Linked DNA regions of Homo sapiens. The protein of the gene in region 1 interacts with the protein of each later gene in a biochemical or structural test. Each region holds a gene or a part of one and is shown in the gene's direction. Other genes may lie near its edges. The genes, in order: MAP7 and TRPV4.

Evidence for each region.
Region 2: the proteins of MAP7 (region 1) and TRPV4 form a complex in vitro, tested with the Homo sapiens proteins (one study listed by BioGRID).

The regions. Positions count from the first base shown.
Region 1 is NC_000006.12:136,347,672-136,351,728, reverse strand, and holds part of MAP7 (ensconsin), read left to right. Parts: intron 1-4,057. UniProt on the Homo sapiens protein: Microtubule-stabilizing protein that may play an important role during reorganization of microtubules during polarization and differentiation of epithelial cells. Associates with microtubules in a dynamic manner.
Region 2 is NC_000012.12:109,784,622-109,788,398, reverse strand, and holds part of TRPV4 (transient receptor potential cation channel subfamily V member 4), read left to right. Parts: intron 1-1,502; coding exon of another isoform or gene 1,503-1,523; exon of another isoform or gene 1,524-1,561; coding exon 1,562-1,689; intron 1,690-3,777. UniProt on the Homo sapiens protein: Non-selective calcium permeant cation channel involved in osmotic sensitivity and mechanosensitivity. Activation by exposure to hypotonicity within the physiological range exhibits an outward rectification.

The DNA.
Region 1 (4,057 bases):
AGTAAATCAATAACTGACATATTTACCTTATCTCTAAAAGACTCCTTCAGCTGTTTGAATATTTTATTCATATTTCTTCAGAGATTCTTCAGCATGAATATGGGGTTGAGGAAAAAGAGCTTCAGAACCAAAAGTTCCAGGCTGGATCCCTAGTTTTACCTTTGAGAAGTTCAGCAACTGTGGGGTTAACCTACTTAATTAAACCTTAGTTTTCTCATCTGGACATGGAGATACTTTCCACACAAAGTATTGGGAGGTTCAGTGAAATGCTATCTGTGAAGGAGTTCCAAAAACTGTTGTACTATATGAATGTTACATATCATTATCTTTATCCTCCTAAAATGAATGCAGTGTCCAGAAAACACACAGTACACTAGGTGTAGCTGCAGTGTGATGTAAAATAATGCTTTTGGTTTGTTCCTGGTATCCCATCTTCTCCTGCCTAGCATTTTATTGGCTTTTTTTTGTTTTTTCGTTTTTTTTTTTTTTTTTACCATCAAAACACAAGGAGTCAGTATCACCAAGGAACAGTTTGCAGTGATCCCAAGATGTCTTAACCTCCATTGTGACTGATCATTCACTGTCTTTTAAGGATAGCTCAGCTGACAGTTTTCTAAACCCACTGCTTTTACAGACTGCCTGCCTTGTCACTCATTTCATGATTTTCCCTGTTTTCTCGAGGGGCTATTTTTATGACTTGCATTTCCAAGAATAAACATTATCTGCATACTTAAATTTTATCCTGCTTGTCTTCCGATTATTATAAAACTAAACCTAGCACTGATCCCTGGGGCTCTCTGCCACTTAAACTCTTCCATCTAGAGAAGGGCTTGCTTATTCCTGTCTTTATTTTGTTTTATTTTTATTTTATAAAACAGAGTCTTGCTCTGTCACCAAGCCTGGAGTGCAGTGGTACGAGCATGGCTCACTGCAGCCTCTACCTCCTGGCTCAAATGATCCTCCCACCCCAGCCTCCTGAGTAGCTGGGACTACAGGTGCGAGCCACCACACCCAGCTAATTTAAAACATATATATTTTTATAGAGATTAGGTCTCCCTGTGTTGCCCAGGCTAGTCTCAAACTCTTGGCCTCTGGCCTTAAGCAGTCATCCCACCTTGGCCTCCTGAAGTGTTGGGATTACAGGCGTGAGTCACCACGCCCAGCCTATTCTTGTCTTTAAAATCCATCCCCAAAACAGCTTCCCATTCATGAATAAACATTCCCTTTGATGCAGTGGAAACTCAGGTTTTTAAACAGTTTTACATCTGAAATTCTGTTAAAAACTTTAAATGACAAATCACATCCATAAATATTTCCTTTCACTCCTAGTTTCAAATCAACCTTAAAATGCTTATAAAATCTTTGGTTTTCATCTCAGTGCATTATTTTTAGTGAGGCATTCCATGATCCTTGTGATCAGTCAGTATCTTTATTAAATACCCTACTTTGCACCTCAAGTAGAGTTATAGATCCCTCCAGCTTGCCCACTGTGAATTAAATCACTGATTAATGGAAATGCTCGGGGTCCCTGCCAAAGAACATGGTGTGCCTGATACTCCATGAAAATCCATCATGACAGATCATGCAAGTATAGTGGTAGAATTTATTTTTGCTAGAAAACTCCACTGCTCAGAATGACTATCTTTTCATTCAAATTGAGAGAGAAGTATCACTTTTCCTAATGTCTTTAGTACCTAATATATTCGTAAATAAATGAATGCTGTGAACTAAATTACATTTGCTCCTCCCCACCTTGAGATATTTCAGCAAACTGTCTAGCAGCACCCCAGGAGGATGGCGACCCCCTAACATTACTTTTCCTAGCAGCTAGGACTGAGACCCTTTGTTATAGAACAACTCTGTACCAGAAGTATCCTGAACCCTACTCCTCACCTTACTCCTGAGTGAGACGCCTGGCCCCTTTGCCCCAAAGCCATTTTTCTTGCCCATCTCTTTTCCCCCTGACAGGTTCCCCACTGACATTAGTTAGAATGGAAGAGGGTTTGAGTTATCACAATTCTGGCCAGATTTTAAAGGTATACAGAAATATGTGAATATGCCAAGTGTGGTGGCTCACGCCTGTAATCCCAGCACTTTAGCAGGTCTAGGCAAGCAGATCACTTGAGCCCAGGAGTTCAAGACCAGCTAGCAACATGGCAAGATCCCGTCTCTACAAAAAATACAAAGATCAGCCGAGGGCAGTGGCATGCATCTGTAGTCCCAGATACGCGGGAGGCTGAGGCGGGAGGATCGCCTGAGCCCAGGGAATTGAAGCTGCAGTAAGCCGTGATTGCACCACTGCACTCCAGCTTGGGCAACAGAGTGAGACCCTGTCTCAAAGAAATATATGAATATATATTAATAACATATATGGATTTTATAAAATTTTATAAATGAATATATACATTTTCCTATGTAAGATATACGACGTTTATAAAATACTTGAAATATATCTTTATGAAATATATGAATATTATATATGCCCTTGAGCTGATCATTCTTACTCAAAAGCCATGTTTGGTTCTTAAGAGAGAGTACTTGTGGAGGGATGTTCCACAGGAATTGAGGAAAATATTTGTCCATGGATAGGAAACTTGCTTTGGAACAGGAAACAAAGGATACGGATCCATATGAATACAAGTCGGGGAGGACAGGGGTGAATATCAGAATGGGAACAGAGGAAGTTATCTGCAGTTTCTCAGGTCATTCTGAGATGTTCTTCTACCCCTAGCTGAGAATCTCTAGTCCAGAGGCTAAGAAGCTCTGCTGCCTATACAGATACTGCCTTACCCTCCTAATACTCCAGAAGACATTTCATGTTTGTTCATTGCCGTAGGGGAGCTGTCTTTTCGTAGAATGTTCGTCTTTTTTTTTAAATAAGAAGTTTTTGGTAATTTTGGTGTTTGACCCATTCATTTTCCCTCCAAATCTTGAGTTCATCATTGCTCTTAGTTTGGCCTGAAGGAAAAGTAACATTCCCAGGCCCCTATTGTTCACACAGGAAGAGATGTATCCCTTTTAATTTAAAAGTTACTTGTTTTAACATAATTAATAAATATCAAGAGAAAATAAGGTTCTGGCTTCCATAAGCTGTGTGGACTGCAGATTCTTGCCAAGGTCCCAACCCCTGCCTGTACACATTTTGGACTGGAGCAAAGCGTGCGGTCTTCAAAAGTCTTACATCAGTCTTCAAACTTCAGAAGGTAACTGAAGGCAGGGAATTCAGAAGCTGGTGCTCTTATTCTGAGTGGACACACGGATCCATACTCCTTAACCCCAGTACTTCAGTTTCAGTTTTATAGTTTCTACCAGTCCCGATGTCCCCTGAACATTTCATGACTTGTCATCCAATGCATATGGCACAATTATCCCTCTGATTGCCAGCAGGTAGAATGGGCAGGTGGAGGGGAAATGAAATCTGATACTGGCTCAAGTCTGGGGTTAGCCATTGCCATTATGACTTGTTAGTACATGCAGGCCTGGAAGGTGACAGGTTAAGGTTGCCAAGGAAAGGGGGCTCTGGAGATACGTTCCTGTTCTTTATCCTTTGCCAGGACTTCTACTTAAATTCTCTCTGTATTAAGAACCAAAATTGTTTCCCTAGTTACAGAAAGGCTGTTGGTGTTAGGCAAGAACAGGAAGATGGGTGTGGCAGCCCAGGCACTTAGAACAGTAGATGTTAGGCATGTGTGTGCACACGTGACTTGGGGGGGGGGGCATGTGCACATGTGTGTGACTGTACTCTTGTGGAGACTTATAATGCCTAGTGGCATTCCCTTCCCTTCTTAGTAAAATAGCAGAAAAGCATCATCACACTGTATAATATTTCAGATTATTTTACAAATAATGTTTTCAGTGTATTCTGCAATGCCTTGTGAGACACTTAGGACAGGCATCTTCATTTTTTCCGTAAAAAAGGAAGGTTTAATAATTTTAAAAATACACAAATATTCAAATCAGAAATGCTTTAGTATGTGTTCCAAAGTCAATACTTCTCACTCAGTAGAGAAAGTAAACTATTTTGACTGGGCGTGGTGGCTCATGGCTGTAATCCCAG
Region 2 (3,777 bases), on another chromosome or scaffold:
TGAGGCCCCAGGGCCCCCAGCCCCACTCTACCAGCCACCCTCGTCCTTCCGAGGAGACCCACCCGACTGGCTTCCTCGGCCTTCCACTCTGAGCAAGCAGTGTCTTCTCATTCTCCCTCCACTTCTCTGTCGGTAAAATGGGCATCAGAGGCTGCTGCTGACTTCCCAGAGCTGCCTAGTGAATTTTGAGGTGGCTTCTTGCCTGGCTGCCAGCAGTGGGCTCAGATTCTCCTTGTGGTCCAGCTCACAGGACACAGTCGGCTCCACCTAGCATGACTGAGTGACTTCTGCCGGCTCAGAAAGTGCTCCGTGGGCATCAGCGTTTCAGCAGGGGTCCCACGCTGAGCCCAGGGGCAGCTTTTGTGCTCTAGCACTCCAGCACAGGGATGTCAGCATTCTCATGGGGGTCTTTTTCTAGCAACTGTGAGCATGCTTCCTAGAGGAGAAACCAATGGGGACAGGGGCCGCCTTGGCCCGGGGAGCTGCAGAAAGTTTTTACTTACCAAAAGCTTTCTATGCAATCCTGGAAAGAACAGGCCCTGGGATCACAGCCCTCCCAGGCCAGGTGCAGCCTACAAACCTGGTGTCCTAATAAACAGTGCTGCCCCACGGCCCAGGAATACAGCACCCGTGTTTACCTTGACTGTGCATTTCAGGAAAATGGTGCAGTGAGAAAAAAGGGCCCAAGGTTGTCCTCCCAGGACTGGGTCTGAGGGAAACAGCTCTGGCCTGCTCTTAACCTTTATCTATATTGCTTACTTCATTGGGCCTCAGTTTCCCCACTGGGCATTACTCACAGGATGCAAACTGGGCATCCTGTGGGCTGGAGTGCAATGGTGTGATCTTGGCTCACTGCAACCTCTGCCTCCCAGGCTCAAGTGATTCTCTGTCCTCAGCCTCCCGAGTAGCTGGGGCTAAGGTGTGCACCACCTCACCCGGCTAATTTTTGTATTTTTTGTAAAGATGGGGTTTCACCATGTTGCCCAGGCTGGTCTTGAACTTCTGAGTTCAAGCTATCCACCTGCCTTGGCCTCCTAAAGTGCTGAGATTGCAGGTGTGAGCCACTGCACCCAGCATCAGACCATTATATTAAAAACAACAACAACAACAAAAAACTGCAAAATTTAAAAATTAAGAGATTCCCTATGAAAACCCAGATTTCTGGCTTTTCTTGAAAAGTTGGAAGCTCCAGGCAGTGCAGGGTCCGGATTCCTGCCTGGCAGCCCTCAGGTGGGGTGAGTGGCAGCTGCCCCCTTACACGTGGGCATTTGCTCCCTGTTCTCCCCAGTCTCTACCCCTCCCTCACTGAGAGGCAACTGCTGTGTAAGTGTGATAGGGCTTGGGCGGCAGCCTTTCTGCACCTGATCCTGTTTCACCCATTTGTTTTCCTGCCTGCCACCTGTGGGTATTTGAGTTTATAAACCCTGTGTCTAGTGGGGAGTAGGAGTCTAAATGCCTAGTTCTGGGCCCACCCTGGCCCGTTGTCTCATTTCTGCCACCAGAGCGGCAGGCGCAGGCTGTGAGGCTCACCGATGTCCCTCCTGACCCTCCCTCCCCGCAGTGGGCCACCACCATCCTGGACATTGAGCGCTCCTTCCCCGTATTCCTGAGGAAGGCCTTCCGCTCTGGGGAGATGGTCACCGTGGGCAAGAGCTCGGACGGCACTCCTGACCGCAGGTGGTGCTTCAGGTGAGGCTGGGGCAGTGGGGCCAGGATGGCAGGGCGGAACTGTCCCCACTGGCTCGGGGCCCCTGCTGCTCCAGCGTCGTCTACCCATTGCAATTTCTGGAGCCACTGAGGCCCCAAGAGGCCCGAGCAGAGTTCATTTCCACCAGGCGATCTCAGGCAAGTCAGCCCACCTCTCTCAGCCTCAGTTTCTTCATCTGTGGAATGAGACAATGATCTCACGGGCTCCTAGGCTGGCGGTGCGGATTAGACAGGTCAGCACGTGAGAAGTGCTCAGCCAGTGCCCGACGCGCATCGGGACGCCACAGGCTCCCCTGTTCTTGCTCAGGGGGAAGCAGAGACTTGGATGGTGGGTTCATTTTAGAGCATCACCCTGTATCTACCAAACAGTGGGGTGAGCTCTAGTGCCCTCGGTGAAATGGGAAGCTGAGGAATGTGCAGTTTCCAGGGCTGGAGACCTCACCCAGCCCATCTGCAGAATGACTCCGTGTTCCAGAGGCACAGGGAGTGCCAGCTTCTTAGGGGAACCCCTTCATGAATCTTTTCTTTCCAGTTGATTCATTCATTGTAAAGTGGTTGTCAGCATGGAGCATAAGCAGAATGTTTGGAGTCAGACAAAGTCAGTTTCTTCATCTGTGAAATGGGAACAATAATAGAACCCACCTCCTAGGCCATCCGATCAGTTCAATTCCATTTTTTGTTTGTTTTTAGAGGCAGGGTTGCTCAGGCTGGAGTGCAGTGGTGTGATCATAGCTGACTGCAGCCTCCAACTCCTGGTCTCAAGCGATCCTCCCACCTCAGCCTCCTCATGCCACCATGTCCGACCAATTTTTAATTTTTTTGTAGAGATGGGGTTCTTGCTATGTTGCCCAGGCTGGTCTCAAACTCCTGGTCTCAAGCGATCTTCCCACCTCAGCCTCCCAAAATGCTGGGATTACAGGCGTGAGCCACCACACCCAGCCTCTGTTCAGTTTGAATCCAAAGCTCAAATCTTGGCTGGGTGTGGTGGCTCGTGCTTGTAATCCCAGCACTTTGGGAGGCCAAGGTGGGTGGATCACCTGAGGTCAGGAGTTTGAGACCACCCTGGGCAACATGGTGAAACCCTGTCTCCACTAAAAATACAAAAATTAGTCGGGAGTGGTGGCATGCACCTGTAATCCCAGCTACTCGGGAGGCTGAGGCAGGAGAATCGCTTGAACCTGGTAGGTGGAGGTTGCAGTGAGCCGAGATTGCACTACTGCACTCCAGTCTGGCGGACAGAGCAAGACTCTGCCTTAAAACAAACAAACAAAAATGAATAGATAGGATAAAAAATTAAAGATAATATGTAAAAAAAAAAGATAATATATAAAAAAATGAGTGGATAAACAAAATGTGGGCTATGTGTACAGTGAAATATTATCTGGGCCAGGCGTGGTGACTGTAATACCAACACTTTGGGAAGCGAGGCAAGAGGATTGCTTGAGCCCAGGAGTTCAAGACCAACATAGTGAAACCCCATCTCTACAAAACGTTTTTAAAAAATTAGCCAGGTGTGGTGGCATATCCCTGTAATCCCAGCTACATGGGGGGCTGAAGTGGGCGGATCACTTGAGCCTGGGAGGTCAAGGTTGCAGTGAGCTGTGATCGTGCCACTGCACCCTAGCCTGGGCAATGGAGTGAGACCCTGTCTCAAAAGAAGGTTAAAAAAAATAATTTCTGCTTGGGGGAATGGAAGAATTTTGGAAATAGATAGCTGTGATGGTCACACAATGTGGATGTGCTTAATGCCACTGAATTGTATACTCAAAAATGATTAAGATGGCAAATTTTTTGTGTGTGTATACACACACACACACACACACACACACACGTCTTTTTTTTTTTTTTTTTGAGATGGAGTCTTGCTTTGTCCCCCAGGTTGGAGTGCAGTGGCGTGATCTCGGCTCACTGCAACTGCCTCCCAGGTTCAAGTGATTTTCCTGCCTCAGCCTCTCGGGTCACTGGGACTATAGGCACCCGCCACCATGCCCCGCTAATTTTTTTTTTAATTTTTTTTAATTTTTAGTAGAGGTGGGGTTTCACCATGTTGGCCAGGCTGGTCTCGAACTC